Homo sapiens: one gene and its partners. The protein of the gene in region 4 interacts with the protein of the main gene of each other region in a pairwise test. Each region holds a gene or a part of one and is shown on either strand. Other genes may lie near its edges. The genes, in order: PSMB2, KRTAP10-10, CHIC2 and AXIN2.

Region 1 (7,053 bases), on a different chromosome or scaffold from region 4:
TTTTTCTCACTTGTGAGTTAGACAGGGGTAAGTCATATTATTAACATTTCACACATTTGGAAATAACATTTCACACATCTGGAAACTGGGGCTTAGAGAGGACAAGTAATTTGCCGAAGTTCAGAGTGCCAAGTCCACATCATAACCAAGGTCTCTTGGATTCTAGTTCAGTTGGTTTTCCACAGTATGACATGCTAATGTTGTTCATTTTGTTGGCCATTTGTTTCATGTATGTGGATCTCGTAAGTTCCTCGTCAAGAATCAGAAATTCCCCAGAGCTACACAGGCAGTTTCCTGTACAACTCAGGGGTCTCTAAGTATCTATCTCTTGTGTTTTTATTAAATATGTTGCCCTCTGCTACTCATTGGACATATTCAGTGTTTAAAAAACATTTTTGGCCTTGTATTAAGCTAATTTTAAAGTTGAACAGGTTACTGCCTAGGATTTTAGCCTTTCTTCTAAGTGTGACATAAGTTCTTTGTAAACAAGCTCCCCCTTCAAATAAAAATATCTTTTTTCTTATTATAAAAATAATGCGAACTTATTGAATAATGCTTTCTTATAAAAGTGAGGCATGTTAAGTATAGAAGTTTTAGGAAAAACCAACAAGCAAAAGAAGGAAACGAAAACTGCCCATACTCTTACCACTGGCAAGCACTTAGAATATACCCTTCTGCTCCTTTTTCTTTGCATAGATAATATAAGTGAATGTTTTTCGTTTATTAACAAGTTTGCAAACTAACAATCTTTAAATCTAGCCTGCATAACAAATAAAAGTGTGTTTGTTTAGGAGTTTTGAGGCAATTTGATATTATCTACAGGTGCATTTTGTGTGTTTTTTCCCTCCAAGTCTAAGAAGCCATATTACTGGTATCTACAACTCTGAAACACTTGTAAAGTATTTGACAGTAGCATTTTGTTCTTTAAATCCTATTAAAGGATTTTGGCATTTCAGAAGCTTTCAAACAGGAAACGTGTCTCCCAGGGAGGATTATTCAGCACTATTTGAAAAATGAAAAGTGAAAGTGAAAGTGAGATAGGAAGATTTAGGCCTTTTCTGAAGCTGCAGACTGAATGTGGAGTTTTCTTCCTTAGGCAATAACTGTAACCTGAATATTTATTTATCTGTCTAATCTGAATGACTCTGGTTCAGCTAGATAAGATTAGAGTATTAGGATTTTTGTGAGGTATTTTAAATAGCTTACTGTCAAAATATTCACTAGAATTTTTGCTTTGGCAATCATTTTAATTTTCTCTTTTTCTTTGGAAGTGGAATTTGTTTACTTTTTAAAGTGATTAATATTCTCAGTTGATTTTCTATTCTTTCTTGAAATGGTTCCTTAATTTTAATTATAGCACCAGTCCTTTTCATATATGCTTTTGTATGTGTATAAATATAATAACTAACATTTGTAGTTGTGGAAACATTTTAGGGCTTTGTTATCATGAGCCTAAAGATAATCGCCATTGGCTGGATTCCTTCAGTTTCTTCTGTCGTTCTGTTCCTTGCATTTCAAATGCCTTTAAATGCTTTAAATTGTATTTTCAATTGGTAGCTTTCATGTATATTCTCCAACCGAAATTGGCATTACACAATATGCTGATGGTTTAACATGAAGAGTGAAAGAGAAAAATTGATACCATTACCTATTAAAATCTTCTAAAAGCAATAATTAGTTAAATTATTCAATATACAGTCGTCCCTTGGTATCTGTAGGGATTGGTTCCAGAACCCCTGCAGATACCCAAATCCATAGATGCTTAAAGTCCATTATATACATGGTATAGTATTTGCATATTACCTATGCAGGTACTCCTGTGTACTTCAAATCATCTCTAGATTATTTATAATACTTAATATGACATAAGTGCTATGTAAATAGTTGTTATACCATATTGTTTAGGGAATAATGACCAGAAAAAAAGTCAGTACATGTTCAGGATAGATGCAAGCATCCATTTTTTTTTTTTTCTGAATAATTTTGATCCATAGTTTGTTGAATTGTGGATTCAGAATCCATGTATATGGAAGGCCAACTGTAGTAATTAATAAACCTGTTTATGGTTACATAAATAATGACGGTCAATGTCTGTTAAGGCAGTTTCTAACACAGTTTTCTTCTTTGAGCAGATCATGACAAGATGTTTAAGATGAGTGAAAAGATATTACTCCTGTGTGTTGGAGAGGCTGGAGACACTGTACAGTTTGCAGAATATATTCAGAAAAACGTGCAACTTTATAAGATGCGAAATGGTGGGTAAGACTTACAGTTTTAGTTGGCATATGAGTTTACTAGGGCTGCCATTACTAAAGTCACAGACTGGGTGGCTTAAACAACAGAAATGTATTTTCTCACAGTTCTAGATGTTAGAAGTCAAAGATTAAGGTGTTGGCAGCGTTGATTTCTGAGGCCTCTCTCCTTGGCTTGCAGATAGCCATCTTCTCCCTGTGTCTTCACGTGATTTTTCTCTTTGTACTATATCCAAATTTTCTCTTCTAAGAATACCAGTCATGTTGAATTAGGAACTCATTTTAATTTAATAACCTCTTAAGGATCCCTTCTCCAAATACAGTCACATACTAAAGTACTAGGGATTAAGACTTCAACATATGAATTTTTGGTGGACAAAATTCAGCCTATAACAATTGGTTTGTCTTTAAATTTGAACTGAAAAATAATATTCTTTAAGACTTATGTGGTCATATTTTCTTTTTTTTTTTTTTTTTTTTTTTTGAGACGGAGTCTCGCTCTGTTGCCCAGGCTGGAGTGCAATGGCGCGATCTCTGCTTACTGCAACCTCCGCCTCCCAGGTTCAAGCGATTCTCCTGTCTCAGCCTCCTGAGTAGCTGGGACTACAGGCACGCACCACCACGTCCAGCTAATTTTTGTATTTTTAGTAGAGACAGGGTTTCACCACGTTGACCAGGATGGTCTCCATCTCTTGACCTTGTGATCTGCCCACCTCGGCCTCCCAAAGTGCTGGGATTACAGGCGTGAGCCACCACGCCCAGCCCATATTTTCATTAGAGTTTTCTGTGTTTAAGAAGTTGTCTAGACCCTAAAGATTCTAATCCTTCATAAAAGATTTTCTACAAAAATCCTAGAGCAGAGAACTGTTGTAACACTGATAGCTGATAGATAAAACTAACACCATCGGCCTGGTATGATGGCTCATGCCTGTAATCCCAGCAATTGGGGAGGACAAGGTGGGAGGATCACTTGAGACCAGGAGTTTAAGACTAGCCTGAGCAATGTAGTGACACCTCATCTCTACAAAAAAAAAAAAAATTTTTTTTTTTTTTGAGATGGAGTTTCACTCTTGTTGTCCAGGCTGGAGTGCAGTGGCACAATCTCGGCTCACCGCAACCTCTGCCTTCCAGGTTCAAGCAATCCTCCTGCCTCAGCCTCCCAAGTAGCTGGGATTACAGGCATGTGCCACCACGCCTGGCTAATTTTGTATTTTTAGTAGAGACAGGGTTTCTCCATGTTGGTCAGGCTGGTCTCAAACTCATGACCTCAGATGATCTGCCCACCTCGGCCTCCCAAAGTTCTGGGATTACAGGTGTGAGCCACCACGCCCGGCCTTCTACAAAAAAGTTTTTAAAAATTAGCTGAGTGTGGTGGCATGCACCTATAGCCCTAGCTACTCAGGAGGCTGAGGCAGGAAGATCGTTTGAGCCCAGGAGGTCGAGGCTGCAGTGAGTTATGATTGTGCCACTGTACTCTGGAAGGCAGCAAGACTCTGTCTCTAAAAAAAATTTTTTTAAACCAACCAAAAAAAAAAAAACCCAACACCATCTTGGAGGTAGGGATGGTAGTATCAGACTTTTTAAGTGTTAGATATCTCAGAGGATGTGGTTTGAGTTTAAAAGTATCTGAACCTGGCCAGGCACAGTGGCTAGCACCTGTAATCCCAGCACTTTTGAGAGGCTGAGATGGGAGGATCACTTGAGGTCAGGAGTTTGAAACCAGCCTAGGCAACAAAGCAAGACCCTGGCTCTATAAAAAATAAAAATATTTACCTGGGTGCAGTGGTGCACACCCATAGTCCCAGCTACTCAGGAAGCTGAAGTGGGAAGATCACTTGAGCCCAGGAGTTCAAGGTCTCAGTGAGCCATGATAGTGCCACTGCACTCCAGCCTGTGCGACAGAGTGAGACCCTGTCTCAAAACAAAGAAACAAAAAAATCTGAATCTCAGCGTCAAAAAACCTAAGTAAACCTTGGCTTTACTATTTTTTATGTGATAAGTCATTTATCTTCTCTGGGACTTTATTTTCCTTATCTCTGAAATGAATTATAATACTAATGAATAATACATATGAAAATATTTTGTAAACCTAAAGCATTGTGTAACTAACTATAAGTATTTACTGTGCCATAAAAGGGTTCTGCCTTACTCTCTGGTAGGTTTCCTTCTAGAGAGATAATTAAGACTTTTGTGAAGTATTTTGTGAGCTCTCTCTGGGGCTAATGAACTCTTATCCACTGGGAAAACCTCCCTAGCAAACGATACTAGCCACTAGGCCTCTGATCCAGGAATGTTTGTAGTGGTGGTCTGGCAGAGAAAACCTTATTTCCACTTACCTCACAGTTCAATAACAACGTTATACACTGCACTGGTATAATATGGAGCTATGAAGGAAGTTAATTTGAATATACTTGCATGTGTAAAATGACCAAAGATCTATTCACATAGTTTGGGCAGTGGATTTAGCATTTGTATTCAATTCCATAAATACTTTTGAGGGCCTCTTCTATGGTAAGCATTCTGCTTAATACTTAAGAGAATTCAAAGATGAATAAGGCTTAGTCCTGACATTCAGGAACATAAAGTACATGGTACTTAGGTTTATGCAGGTTTAGAATATTTCAAGAATTCTGCTTTTTTTTCCAGTGGTTCCACTTTTTGCCTGCATAACAAATGAAGTATGTCAGTAATGCTTCTGAAGTCCAGTAGGTACTGTATGACTTCACTGGCTGTCCTGAGAGAGGGAGAAGAGTGAACAAGAGTAGCAAGAGTTGTTTGTTACTGGGTTTTAGGGTCTAAAGTCAGTGCACAGACAAAAACTGTGTTTGGTTAAAATTGCCCTTAAAGACCCTTAAATTACCTGCCAAGTACAGTTTTGTGTATGTAACTCTATATAGTAATTCTTATATAAGTTAAAGAACTGAGCTAAAATAAGGGAAAGAAAGAGAAAATCTATATGCAGATAATCAGGCATGACTTTTCTGCCTTTAGGATAATGGTCAGATCTTCAGTGGTGTTTAGGGGGTTAAGTAAAGAATTGAATAGTATTCCCACTTGTCTAGGTTCCTTCTTTTTTTTTTTTTTTCTTTTTTGAGTCAGGGTCTCGTTCTGTTGCTCAGATTGGAGTGCAGTGGTGCAGTCTCAGCCCACTGCAACTTCCAGCTCCTGGGTGCAAGTGATTCTCGTGCCTCAGCCTCCTGAGTAGTTGGGATTATAGGCATGCACCGCCATGCCTGGCTAATTTTTTGTATTTTAAGTAGAGACAGAGTTTCGCTATGGTGGCCAGGCTGGTCTTAAACTCCTGTCCCCAGGTGATCCACCCACCTGGGCCTCCCAAAGTGTTCTGGGATTACAGGTGTGAGCCACTGTGCCTGGCCTCTTTTTTTAAATTATTATTATTATTTTTGTTGTTGTTGTTGAGACAGGGTCTCACTCCTGTCGCCTGGGCTGGAGTGCAGTGGCACAATCATGGCTCATTGCAGCCTCGAATTCCCAGGCTCAGGTGATCCTTCCACCTCAGCCTCCCAACTACCTGGGAAAACAGGTGTGCACCACCACCCCTGGCTAATTTTTATATTTTTAGTAGAGACGGGGTTTCATCATGTTGCCCAGAATGGTCTTAAACTCCTGGGCTCGAGTGATCTGCCTGCCTCCGCTTCCCAAAGTGCTGTGATTACAGGCATGAGCCACTGCACCTGGCCAAGGATTGCTTTCATTATGATTTAATATGCACTAATAGACTTGTGAGGATAAAGTACAATAATACATGTGAAAACACTCAGCATAGACCCTGAAACATAGTTGCTGCTCAATAAATATTTGTTAGGATTTGAATCTGAATCTCTCCTAATTTGACAGTGGTATTTGAAATGTTGTAAGCAATTACTTAACCACACTGCTGTGTGTCTTTCCATACTGACATTTTCTGTGTGGGCCCACTGAGTTATGGATCATTCTTGTGCCTTTTGGCACTGGTCCCATTCTACAGGGGGATTAAGCTCCAAAGTGAATGCGTTATTACATGCACACCTGATGCTATTCCTCTGGGTTGTACCTTTGTTGGTATGACAACTTTTATTTTTGAAGTTTTAACACTTGAGATACTCTATTTTTAAAAATACTGCAGAATGATGGAAATGTTCTTTTTCTGTGGCTTATACTTTTGAAAGTCATATTATACTTCTTAATAAAGTAACATTTAAAATATTTTTTTAATAAACTATGACTCTGAGGTAGTCCTAACTTCTAGCCTCTCTTTTCCCAATATCCTTTTTGTTCCTGTTTTCGTTTTTTTAGAGACAGGGTCTTGCTCTGTCACCCATGCTGTAGTGCAGTGGCACAGTCATAACTCACTTGAACTTCTGGGGTCAATTGATCCTCTCCACTCAGCCTCCTAAGTAGCTGGGATTACAGGCATGTACCACCATGCCTAGAAATTTAAAAAAAAATTTTTTTTAGAGATGGGGGTCTCACTATGTTGCCCAGGCTAGTCTCAAACTCCTGGGCTCAAGCGATCTTCCCACCTTGGCTTCCCAAAGCTCTAGGATTACAGGCATGAGCCACTGTGACTGGCCCCCAATATCCTTTTTAAAATAAACTTTTAAAAGATTGGCATCTAAGACGCCTTTCTTTTTTTTTCACTTCTTGTGTATTCGTGTTCCTTTCCTTCTACGGCAGAAACCACAGTGTGTTGATGAATGAATAGTTTAAGCAAGGCTGCTAGAAGTTTCATTCCACTATAGAACTGGTTCTGTTTGTGGCCAAGAATTGCTGTCAGTACTAACCAGCTATTTCATAGCTG
Region 2 (6,587 bases), on a different chromosome or scaffold from region 4:
TGGGGGAGGGCGTGGTCCCAATGTCTTACTGTGGAGGAGATGAGGGCTGCAGGGATGAGCACTGTGGTCCATAGCTGGTCTCCCCAGGGGTAACAGGAGGGGTGAGGCTGCTGGGTGGAGCCAGGCCCCAGGTGGTCTACCCCAGGCCTGGGGGGCAGCCATGGAGCTGGGGAGGGTGAATGTGGCTCAGGGGCCCAGAGTGCTGCCAGGGTCCACTTTGTCCCGAAACTCCTGGCCTTGGTTCCAGAGGCAGCTTTCCTAAGATGGGCCGGGGGGCCACGTGCTGGGGTTGGGGGCCCACGGGGCTAAGAGGGAGACTGGCCTTCAGGGTTCACAGAGGCCAGCACCAGAAGGCATTGCTTCCTGCCTCATCCCATGCCCCTCGGGGGTCCACAGACAGGATGGAAGGTCGACAGAGACAGAGGGGTGGAGCCAGGCCTGCTGGGGGTCAGGACTCTCCCTGCAGTCAGGGGTGGCATCACTTCCCACCTCACCCTGTGCCCCCCCGGGGGTCCACAGACAGGACAGAGGTTGGTGTGAGACAGAGGCGGCTTTATTAGAACTAGAGGGGGTGCTGCCCAGGGTGGAACCAGGCCTGCTGGGGGTTAGTTCTGCAGAACTTGGGTCTGGGGGAGTAGCTGGGGTCCCACAGGCAGCCATCATCTGGGAAGGACTGGGGGAGCATCCTGGTCCCCAAGACAAAGAGCCTGCCCCACCTTCTGAGGGTGTCAAAGCCAGAGAGGGCAGAGCTTGCTGGGGCAGCTGGGAGGTCAGCCCCTGGTGGGAAGGGACTCCGGATCACATCCAGGGCTGTCAGCAGCTGGACTTCTGGCCAGAGCAGAGGCTGTAGCAGGCAGGGCGGGAGCACACGGGGCGGCAGAGGAGGGAAACACAGGAGGCCGTGCGGCAGCAGCTGGGCTGGCAGGAGGAGGCAGAGGCACCGCAGGAGGGGACGGGCACGCAGCAGGTGGACTTGCACACAGGGTGGCAGAGGAGGGACACGGAGGAGGAGGGTCTGCAGCAGGAGGCGGTGCAGCAAGCAGGCTGGCAGCTAGACTGCTGGCAGCATGAAGTGGAAGCCCCAGAGCACACAGGCACATAGCAGACGGACTTAGAGCAGACAGGCACACAGCAGGCCTGCTGGCATGGGGAGGAGGTGCAGCAAGTTGGCTGGCAGCTAGACTGCTGGCAGCATGAAGGGGAAGACTCGGAGCAGGTAGGCACGAAGCACACAGGCTTGTTACAGACGGGCACGCAGCAGACGGGCACACAGCAGACAGGCACACAGCAGGCCTGCTGGCAGGGGGAGGAGGTGCAGCAATCCGGCTGGCAGCTAGACTGCTGGTAGCATGGGGTTGTGCAGGAGCTGGTGTAGCCTGATTGGCAGGCGCTGGGCTCACAGGCCGTCTGGCAGCAGGGGCTGGACACACAGCTCACTGGGGTGCAGACCAGGGTCAAGCTGGGGGCTGGGGCACAGCAGCAGGGCTCGCAGCAGCTCTCTGGGCAGTCGACTACCCGCCAAGAGTCAGTGCAGGCGCTGGAGCAGATGGACATGGTGGAGGCGGCCATGCTGGAGTGGGGAGGCGGTGAGCTGGGGGAGGTGTGTGAGTGAGTGAGTGTGTGAGTGAGTGTGTGTGTGAGCCTGTCAGCTGCTGGGGCTTTTATATGCCCAGGGCCTGTGTTTTCCCAGCAGGAGACTCAGCAATGCCCTCCCCTTCCGTGTTGGTGTTTGGAGCCGGGAGGACCCTCATTATTTCTGCTTCCTTTGCCATGACTTGTCCTCACTCTGCTCCTAACACTTGGCTGGTCCTGGGCAGGACCGGCGCCCCTGGCTGAGCCTGTCTCCCGGGAACACCAGGAGGGAAGGTGTGACCTCTCTGGGGCTGACCTGGTGACTTCCACCTGGCAGGTCCCGTGACTGTGCCCAGCGTGGGCCCTCAGCCTGGGGGAGGCCCAGCCTCTGTCTGCAGGGACCTCACGGGGTGGGCTGGCGTGGCTGAGATTGGGAGAGCCAGGACGGAGGTGCCTGTGTTGGGAAAAGATGCTTGAAGACAGCGCTTCCTGGCGGGCTCTGGGATCTTCTGAGATCCTGATGTCTGCCAAGGGCAGGAGGACAGGGAGGACCTCCCCTCCTCTGAGGAGATGGAATGTTCTGGCAAGGCCTCTGGACAGTCAGCTCATTAGGAGGACAAGGTTTGGGGACTGGCCTTTGGGTCTGGACTGCCATCCCCTGGAGCCCTGGTCAGGTGTCCTGAGAGGGGCGGGTGCAGGTCAGGGTCTGAGGGTGGGGAGGGGCCTCTACCTTGGAGAGGCAGGTGTGGAGTGAGGGTTGCGTGGAGAGTGGAGGATACTTGGGGTCTGGATGAGAAAAGTGTCAGATGGGGCCACAGTCAGCCCCACTGCCCGGACGCCTGGTCTTACTCTATGTTTGCACTTTGGCTGAAGCCACATGCCAAGAAGTTGAAATGTGATGTGAATTTCTAGTATCTGTAGGTGACATCATTGTCCACCTAGGATCAGAGTGACTGTCCCAGGCCACGCTCACTGAAGGGCTGGATGAGAGACAAAGTCACTGCACCCAGCACCCCCTACCTGTACCCCTGCCATGACAGTGTGGAAATACAATGGGAAAGGAAGCCCGTCAGCCAGCAGACCCAAGTATAAAATGCCCAGTGGAATGTCAGAGGGTCAGATGTGAACGAAAGCATAAACCTTGACCAGAACACATACAACGTATGTCCCCTGGAAACCCGGCAGGGTTGGGTGCTGGAGACCGGTCCACATGCCTCAGCTCAGCTCAGCATCCACGACGTTCCCATCACAGCCCTGAAGGAATCATTGGGTACACAAATGAAGATATGAACTGCCAGAAAGTACTTGTAATCTCCATGACAGGTGGAAGATTAATGTGAAAAATTTGAAGTCCTTACCACTAAAACAGGATAAGATACAAAAGAAATGAATAGAAGACTAAAAATTTTAAATTTCCAATAAGCATGAATGAGATGAACAGCTAGTTGATCTCATTAATAACTAAAGTTTCTCAGGTTTAAACACACGTCTCCCACCTGTAAGAGCAAACAAGATTTAAAATGCTGATAATATCCAGCATTGCAGAGCGAGGGGCTTCATTCTTAGAAACCCTTGGCAGGTGTAATTTTATTTAAATTGTGATCAACCATAAAATAAAATGTACCATTTTACCCATTTTAAAGTGTGCAATTCAGTGACAGTACAGTCATAATGTTGTGCAACCATCCCCACTACCTAGTTCCAGAATACTATCATCGCTCCCGAAGGAACCCCGGTACTATTAAGCAGCCATGCCCAGCCCCTGGCAACCAATACTATTCTGCTTGTCTCTATGGATTTGCCTGTTCTGCACATTTCATATAGACGCAGTCATGGAATATGTGGTCTTTGTGTCTAGCTTTGTTCACTCAGCATGTTTTCAAGGTACACCTGTGTTTGGGTATGTTTCAGAACGCCATTCCTTTTCTTGGCTGAATCATATTCCATCAAAGGGACACGCCACATTTCATTTATCCATTCATCTGCTAATGCACTTTTGGGTTCTTTTCAACTTTTGGCTAGTGTGAATAGTGCTTCTATAAACATTCTTTTTTTTTTTTTTTTTTTTTGAGACAGAGTCTCCCTCTGTCACCCAGGCTGGAGTGCAGTGGCCCCATCTCGGCTCACTGCAACCTCCACCTCCCGGGTACAAGTGATTCTCCTGCCTCAGCCTCCCAAGTAGCTGGGATTACAGGTGCGCACCACCACACCCAGCTAATTTTTTATATTTTTGGTAGAGACGGGGTTTCACCATGTTGGCCAGGCTGGTCTTGAACTCCTGACCTCAAGTGATCCTCCCGCCTCGGCCTCCCAAAGTGCTGGGATTACAGGCATGAGCCACTGCGCCCGGCCCTATAAACATTCTTGTACATGTTTCTGTTTGAACACCTCTTTTTAATTCTGTTGGGTATATACCTAGGAGTGGGAACTGATGAGTTGTATGGAATTCCATGTTTACATTTTGAGGACGTGCCAGACTGTTTTTCACAGCATCTGTACCATTTTATATTCTCACTAGCAATGTACAAACATTCCAGTTTCTCTTCATCCTTGTCAACATCTGCTACCTTCTATTTGTTGGTGTATGTGTGTGTTAAATTATAGCCATCTTGGTGGGTATGAAGTATCAACAGCATGTCATTGTGGTGTGGATTTCTGTTTCCCTAATGACCAATAACATTGAGCTTCTTTTCCTGCGTGTATCATCCATTTGCATATCCTCCTTGGAGAAATGTCTATTAAAGGACTTTGCCTATTTTTAAATTGGGTTGACTTTTTGTTGTTGAATTATAAGAGTTCTTTATATATTCTGGGTGTTAGATCCTTATCAGAATTATGATTTACAAGCATGTTCTTCCCTTGTGTGGGTTGTTTTACTCTCTTGATAGTGTCCTTTGATGCACAAAACTTTTTAATTTTGATGACATCCAATTTATCTATTTTTTCCTTTTGTTGCTTATGCTTCTGGTGTCATATCTAAAAAACCATTGCCCAAAATAAGGTCATACATATTTACTCTTATGTTTCCTTCTAAGAATTTTATGGCTTTATCTCATATATGTAGGGCTTTGATCCATTTTTAGTTAATTTGTTGGTGTGAGATGTAGTGCAACTTTATGATTTTGTGTGTAGATATCCAGTTGTCCTAGCACCATTAAAACAGAGACAGGGTATTGCTCAGCCTGTTGCCCAGGCTGGAGTGCAGTGGCACAATCATAACTCATTGCAGCCTCAAACTCCTGGACTTAAGTGATCCTCCCACCTCAGTTTCCCAGGTAGCTGGGACTACAGGTGCACACCACTATATTTGGCTAATGAAAAAACATATTTTTTTAGGGACCAGGGTCTTACTCTGTTACCCAGGCTGGTCTCGAACTCTTGGCCTTAAACAATCCTCTCATCTCAACCTCCTGAGTAGTTGGGATTACAGGCATAAGCCATCATTTTATAGCATTTGTGTACCTAACATCAGTTATAAACATTCATGTACCTAACAAACATCAGACCCCCAAGATATATCAAGCATAAATGGAAAGAAGAGAAGAAAGAAATAGGCAATTCCAGTTCAACAATAATGTTTGAAGACTTCAATAAGTCACTTCCACTGATTAAAAAAAATTTTTAAATAGAACTAGATCAAAGATCAATAACGAAATAGAGAACTTGAAGAACACTATAAACAAGCTAGATCTAATATGGCCGTGTATAAAACATTCAACCCAACAACAGCAGAATACAAATTCTTCTCAGTTCTCCAGATTAGACCATATGTTAGTCCAAAAAACAAGTCTCAATAAATTTAAAATTATTGAAATCATATAATGTATCTTCTCTGACCACAGTGGGAATTAGAAATCAATAACAGAAGGAAAACTGGAAAATTCACAAATATGTGGCAATTAAACAACACATACTTATAACAACCAGTTGATTGAAGAATAAATCAAAAGAGAAGTTAGAAAATACTATGGGATAAATGACAGTGACAATATAACAAACCAAAACTTATGGGATACGGCAAAACAGTTTATGGAGGGAAATTTGTAGCTATAAATGCTTATATTAAAAAACAAGAAAGATCTCAATTCAGTAATCTAACTTCACACCTTAAGGAACCAGGAAAAGGAAGAGCAAACTAAACCAAAACCTAGAAGAAGGAAGAAAATAAAGATTATATGTAGAATACAGGGAGCAAATAAAGAAATTGAGAATAGAAAAACAATGGAACCAACGAAGCCTAAAATTAGTTTTTTGAAAGCAACAATAAAATTTACAAACCTTTAACTAGACTGAGAAAAAAGAGAAGGCTCTAATTATTAAAATCAGAAATGAAAGTGGGAACATTACTGCTGACCTATATAGATAAAAAAGACTATAAGAGAATATATGAACAATTGTACACTAACACATAAAATCAATAAAATTTATTCCATTTAAGCATGTTTAGTGATATTAAATACATTCATAATGTAGATAACCTAGATGTAATGGATAAATTCCTATTAACATACAAACTACCAAAACTGATACCTTTATTAGTGTTCTTTATTTCTTTTCTTCTTTTTCTTTTTGAGATGGAGTCTTGCACTGCCACCCAGGCTGGAGAGCAGTGGCACGATCTTGGCTCACTGCAACCTCTGCCTCCCAGGTTCAAGTGATTCTCCTTGCCTCAGCCTCCCAACTAGCTGGGATTACAGGTGCCCACCACCACACTCAGCTATTTTTTTTTGTGTGTGTATTTTTAGCAGAGATGGAGTTTCACTATGTTGGCCAGGCTGGTCTCAAACCCTTGACCTTCTGATCTGCCCGCCTCAGCCTCCCAAAGTGCTGGGATTACAGGCGTGAGCCACTGTGCCCAGCCAGTTCTTTATTTCTTAATATGGCTTCAAGTTATTGTCTAGTGCCCTTTGATTTCATCCTGAGCTGTCATTTCTTGTAGGGCAGGCCTACTGGCAATAAACTCTCTCAGCATTTATTTATCCAGAAGTGTCCTAATTTCTCCTTTAGTTTCAAAG
Region 3 (3,370 bases), on a different chromosome or scaffold from region 4:
TTTGGGGAGAGGGATGGATAGGAGATGTAAAGAATTTAGTGAAAAAAATATTTACTACATTTATAACACAAACACTAAGCTTAAAACTGAGGTATTAATTTTTTCATGCATTTCTAAATTTACTTTGGAAAGGAAAACATAAAAGTTATCCCAATGCTATGAATTCCAGATAGAACTATATGACTATAATTTATTCATAAAATAATTTATAACCTTCCAAAACATTCTGAACTATATGCTTTGTTTGTCAAATAAGTTTCCTTGAATTTTTAGATAATTAAGCACTTCTGCTAAAGCCATTATATTATTTTCACTCCATCATAGAAGATACCCAGAAGAGTAGTAAAGATAAAATAAATATTTCAATTGCCAGGAAAAAGCTGGGTGTAGTGGGCATGCCAGTAGTCTAGCTGGGGAGGCTGAGGCAGCAGGATCACTTGCGTCTAGGAGTACAAAGACAGTTTGGGTAACATAGCAATACCCACCTCTCTTTAAAAAAAATAATAATAAGCTGGGGAGAAAAAATGTGTTCTGCTGGATTTTCTTAGAGTATATATATATATTTGTGATAGTTGAAAGTGAGAATAATGTAGCTTAAAAAATTTATAAAAATGAATTTTAAAAGTTAAACTAGCAAATAAAATTCATTTTATCTAATGAATTTGGGCCTTTTTAACCATGTGTCCCTCTTTTCTTCAACTTTTCTTTAACTTACAGGAATTTAATTTTGTTAAAAGAAAATAATTATCCTTGATTATAATTTGAACATTGGAGATACTAAAAAATATATATATATATATTCCACCTTGGCACTAACTTTTCTTTGTTCAGATATGGTAGAGATGGATGATTTAGAATAAATGAGACAAGTGGCCAGTCTCTATGTGTGGCTTCTGAAGGAAAAATTTGTAGAATATATTATTTAAAAACTAATAGTTCAAATGTAGGCAAAGATAGCCTTTATTTTATGTTATGTATTAAAAGTGTATATTATAAAGTGTGGGGATGCCCATACCTGGGGACTAAAATTATAAAGACTGATTGAGGACATACTTGAAATACAAAATTATTTATTTAATGTTGACTCCTAAGTAGTTTAAACATTTAATTGTCAAATTTTAAAGCTGCAAAGAATCTTGTTATCTAGTTCAATGCTTTTATTTTATAGATAAGAAACCTGAGAAACAGGAAAATCTAGCTCAAATGAAGAAGCTAGTTGGGAGAAAGTATTTTAACAGGGAGCTAGTGAATATTTTGTAGGCAAATCACAGGTCAGGAGAGTGGCAAATGTGACAGCTAAGCCTTAGTGCAGGATACCTAGAGTAGGACAGGAATATTTTTGAGCCAGGTATAGAAGTGTATCTTCTTTATTGAGGCAGATCAAAAGCCAGGAGAACTGAAGAGTGAAAATGAAGATTCCTGGCCCAGACAGCTAATTTGTAGAAGTATTGAAATCTGGAGGTCATATCAAGCAAGACACAGTTTCTGAAAAAGAATGATGAGTTCACTAGACTTAGAAACTTTTAAAATCAAATAATTTTTAAATCACCATCTATTTAATACAAATTTGGAGCAAAAGAAAGAGTTGACTGTAATTTAAGAAAATTCAAATTTGGAAAAATTAGCTCTGGTCACTTTGTGTAATTCTGTGTTACCATATTTTGTTTTTGTTGGTTTTCCTTTAGTTTCCTATTAAAAGGCCTTTTGGAACAAATTTTAGCCTTTAATTTTGCTAACCTAAGAAGAAATGGACTTTTTAAAAAATTAAGAGATAAAGGACCTTTTATCTAAAGATTACATATTCTGGTAGAGTAAAATGAGAGCAACTCTAGAACTTAGAGAAGACTCATGTAGTTGGGTTGATTAAAAAGGAGAAAGTCTAAAGAAAAATGTTGGGTGAGCTGCAGTCACGTAGGGTGGTATAAAGGGCAAGGCTTTGGAGTTAAGACAGTCTTTTATTCAAACAGTGACTCCACATTCAATTGTGATACAACTTCTCTGGATCATCAGTTTCCTCATCTGTGAAATAAGGATTATAATACTTGCCTCATAGAAAAGTTGTTGGGTTTAAAGAGACCCAATGTAGTATGGAACACCTGGTATACAGTTAGTTCTAAGTAAATACTAGCCTCTTTTCTCATGAGTGCAGGGGAGCGTGCATGTATGCATGTTTGCTCCTCCAGTGTATCAGGGGCACTATCTATATCACCCTTCTCAGACTTTGGTGATTTTACTTGCTTATTTGTCTTCCTTTTCATAGAGCCAAGGTATTTCGTGTATTTGGTAAAGGTCCAGAAATAAAAAGAAAAATTCTCAGTGATGGAACTCTGCATTATCAGATAAAGATCTGTTTTAGTAATGCAAAGTTGCGTTTTAAAATGTGAATGGATTTTCAAAAAAATTGTGAAAGCATATAATTGAAGTTTTAAGAAAAAATTTTGTTTAAATCTTTTAAAACCTTTTTCTTCTCCTTTTACAGGTCATCCTCATAGAATTTTTACCAAAGACACCGATTTTTCGACCAGATTAGCATTTACTTTATTTATAGAGACTTTCCAAGTATGTTGTCTTTCCAATGGTGCCTTGCTTGGTGCTCTCCTGGTGGTGACATAACATTGGTTCTACAGAATCGTGTGGTGTTTTTTTTGTTTTTGTTTTTGTTTTTTTTTTAAATAACCGCATGTTCTAAGTGTGCATTTTTGTCAATCTTTGCAACAGTTATTTCATACAGATGTTTAATACTTAAGTTATTGTGCTCTTTTCTGTTATGTATTCTGATTTTCAAGGATTACTTTTTTGTATTATCAAAAAAATACATTTGAACTTAGCATAAAAAGTGGCCAGCCTTTTTTATTTTGTCACCAAGGTACACACAGTCCTTTATTTATAAATTCCTTAACAGAGAAAAACACCTTTGTAAGGCTCAACTTACCTATTCCAGCAAGCACACTTTTTCTGTCATTTTTTCTTTCTTTTCAAATTTGATATTGTCATTATTTTAAAATAGTAAGTTTTCTTTAATAGTCTTTTGGGACCTAACATACCCTTTCTCATACAATTCCTAATGCTCTGTTTATGGCAGATAATCTGTAATGTTATGAAGACCTATCAAAAAGTTTTAAAAGTATTTCTGTCTTCAAAGGTAGTAAGACAGGATTAAATTTTTATTAGAATAGACAAATCAGTGAATGGTATGCATGTATCTAGTGGTTACTAGAACTCAGGATCACACAATATAGTAGCATCACGATCTGTGTATATTTTTGATCAAGATGATAATAATGGCCTTACTTGGGTTTTTATCGTTTATCAAATCTTACATACAAAAGAGTGGAAGTATTCCTTTACAAAATTTCTAAGGAAAATATTT
Region 4 (2,639 bases):
CTATGTTCCCGACACCTGACCGGCCCTGAGCCTGATGGCTCACGATAAAATACTGATAGGATTAATAGTCAGCCTTGTTGATCAGCTCCCAGAATGGGGAGGGTGCCTGGCTAGCTTTGATCTCTAAGTCCATTGGCCCCACGTGGACATTCCAGGTCTATGAAACCATCTGCTGAACGGCTTTCATGTCGGAGACACCTGTTGAAACTCCTGGGAGGGCCTCCTCTCATCCCCTGGTCCCCTGCACCTACCTGGCCGGACTGGAGACAATCTGCCCAGGAGGAAGAGGCTGAATGGAGGTGTTACAGGGAAGAGGACCCCCAAAGGAGATGTCATCTACAGCCTGCTCCAAGGCAAGAAAAGCCTCAGCCAGTAGCCAGGTGATTTGAATAAATGGCTTTACAAAACCTCCAGGTGGGTCCAGATCAGGTCAGGGCTCAAGGTCAGAGACGGGCTTGGGCAAGGTAGGAAATCAAGCACAGATGTCTACACACAAAAGGGCCCCTCGGCCCTGTTCCCACCCTGGGGATTCAAAGACGAGGCCAGTGTTTTGAAAAATATAAAATTTTAATAAAGGCTACATCTCTTAATTACAATAATTATTGTACCAAGTAATTTTCCTTAAATGAACTCTTTATAATGCATAATTTACAGTATAAGTAGAACAAAATGTCATGACAAAAGTCATTGAGTACAAGACTTGTAATAAAAAGGCATAAAATATATTTATACATAAACCCCTTTCAAAAAACAAGGGAAAGCTTGAGCCCTCAATATAGGGCGACACACGGAGCGGGTGACCGTGCAGGTACAGGTACTGTACTGATTTAAAGTCAAGCACTAGAGATAGTGGATTAATACTCTTTTGCCGTACACTATATACAGATGTATAGTACAAGTAACAATGGCAAACAGAATGTACAGATTAACTTAACACAAAAACCCGAACATCAAAATGAAGGTGTGTGGAGGAAAGGTGCTGCTGGGTCTCCCTACAACTGTTCATTTCTTTGTGGGGCAGGGGGTAGTTCCTGAATGGCTGTGGTCCAATGACTAATGTAAAACAAAAACAGAAACAAAAAAAACAAGGAACTGTCATTTCCACGAAAGCACAGCGGCAGTGATTCTAGCAGGCCTCAGGGCCCTGGGCCTGGGGAGGCTACATGAGGGGGAGCCTCAGTCACAGGATCAACCTGGGGCCCGAAGGAGCAGGGTTCCCTGCCTCTCCCTCTGCAACAGATCATCCCATCCAACACAACCCCCAAAATGTTGATGATGACGCAACATGGTCAACCCTCAAGACCTTTAAGACAAAACAGAGCAGCATAGGAAAAAAAAAAACAAAACGCACCAATTTCTGCATGTGTCAATGGTAGGGCACCATTTTAAAAAGTCTGTCTAAAACAGTCTGTCTTCACTTGGAGGGACGTAGTGCAAAGCATAATTCCTCTGTTAGTGAAGAAACCATGAACGCACTCCTAGCTCAACTCCTAAGTTTAGTCAGAACAATTAAAACTTCCTGTCTCCCCCTTCCAAGTTTAAAGCAGCATATCCATAAACTGGGGATGGGGGAAATCAACTGTTCTATAAATATCAGTAAGGATTCCTGTTCAGGTAAGCTATACACAGTTTCTCTTAGTTTATGGATTTCAGATCCCTAGGAAGTCATATATTATGTATGGCAGTCTCTCAAATACAGGCAGCATCTTCAATAGCCAAGAGTGGTCATGTTTTTAATAAATAGTTCAGGCTTTTCTTATCTCAGTCAGTACCCAGCTCATGAATCATGAAAATCAACCTCCCCCCGCCCTCCCGAAGGCCCACTGGCCGATTCTTCCTTAGACTTTGTCTTCTTCATTGGTTTAATTTTCCTTCAAAATGTTTTGTCGCAGTTGCTCACAGCCAAGACAGTTCACAAGAGCTTCGGGCTCCAACAGTTCACCAAAGCCAGACCCCAGGGCTCAATCGATCCGCTCCACTTTGCCCAGAATCCGGCCTTCATACATCGGGAGCACCGTCTCATCCTCCCAGATCTCCTCAAACACCGCTCCACAGGCAAACTCATCGCTTGCTTTTTTGAAGTAATACCTTAAAAGGAAAACCAAAAAAGCTTCTTGGTAAACTGCATTTTCCACATTGTTGAAAAGAAAAGCATACCAACATGGAGGACTGAGGTATCCTAGGAATTTGCTATGGCAGGTGTGCCTGTACACTGTTGCGCACATCTGCTTTAAGACGGCAGCTGGGACTGGCCACACCACAAGAAGCAGGTGGGCCGAGATGATGAAGGCCAGGCACCCACTGAGCAGCAGCCTGGGCTGGGCCTGCCACCTGCAATCTTCAACCCAGCACCTCTGCTGTCTCCTGACACGTATACACTGTGAAAAGCAGAGCTGCTTTCCCCCCGCCAACCTTTTTCAGCAGTGGGGTGGGGGAGGGAAGGGAAGGACAAATGCCTGCAGTTCCTTTGCAGCAGGAGCCAAGCAGGTCCTTCAAAGAGACTCCAGACTATCTCCAGGTTCAGCCATCCTGAACCCATCACACCTGGAGAGCCGGAACCTGCCGAAGTCTGTAAAAGGCTGACTTCCAGATGGTTTAGCAGTCCAAAGGCCTCTCGGCCTTCCCATCCTCCAGGTCCC

What was found.
Region 1: the proteins of AXIN2 (region 4) and PSMB2 interact in binary tests that used the Homo sapiens proteins (3 or more experiments, as listed by UniProt).
Region 2: the proteins of AXIN2 (region 4) and KRTAP10-10 interact in binary tests that used the Homo sapiens proteins (3 or more experiments, as listed by UniProt).
Region 3: the proteins of AXIN2 (region 4) and CHIC2 interact in binary tests that used the Homo sapiens proteins (3 or more experiments, as listed by UniProt).

The regions. Positions count from the first base shown.
Region 1 is NC_000001.11:35,631,512-35,638,564, reverse strand, and holds part of PSMB2 (proteasome subunit beta type-2), read left to right. Parts: intron 1-2,132; coding exon 2,133-2,255; intron 2,256-7,027; exon of another isoform or gene 7,028-7,053. UniProt on the Homo sapiens protein: Non-catalytic component of the 20S core proteasome complex involved in the proteolytic degradation of most intracellular proteins. This complex plays numerous essential roles within the cell by associating with different regulatory particles.
Region 2 is NC_000021.9:44,632,400-44,638,986, reverse strand, and holds KRTAP10-10 (keratin-associated protein 10-10), read right to left. Parts: upstream 1,632-6,587; 5' UTR 1,570-1,631; coding exon 814-1,569; 3' UTR 532-813; downstream 1-531. UniProt on the Homo sapiens protein: In the hair cortex, hair keratin intermediate filaments are embedded in an interfilamentous matrix, consisting of hair keratin-associated proteins (KRTAP), which are essential for the formation of a rigid and resistant hair shaft through their extensive disulfide bond cross-linking with abundant cysteine residues of hair keratins.
Region 3 is NC_000004.12:54,009,255-54,012,624, reverse strand, and holds the end of CHIC2 (cysteine-rich hydrophobic domain-containing protein 2), read left to right. Parts: intron 1-2,479; coding exon 2,480-2,530; 3' UTR 2,531-2,836; downstream 2,837-3,370.
Region 4 is NC_000017.11:65,528,015-65,530,653, forward strand, and holds the end of AXIN2 (axin-2), read right to left. Parts: intron 2,089-2,639; coding exon 1,962-2,088; 3' UTR 549-1,961; downstream 1-548. UniProt on the Homo sapiens protein: Inhibitor of the Wnt signaling pathway. Down-regulates beta-catenin. Probably facilitate the phosphorylation of beta-catenin and APC by GSK3B.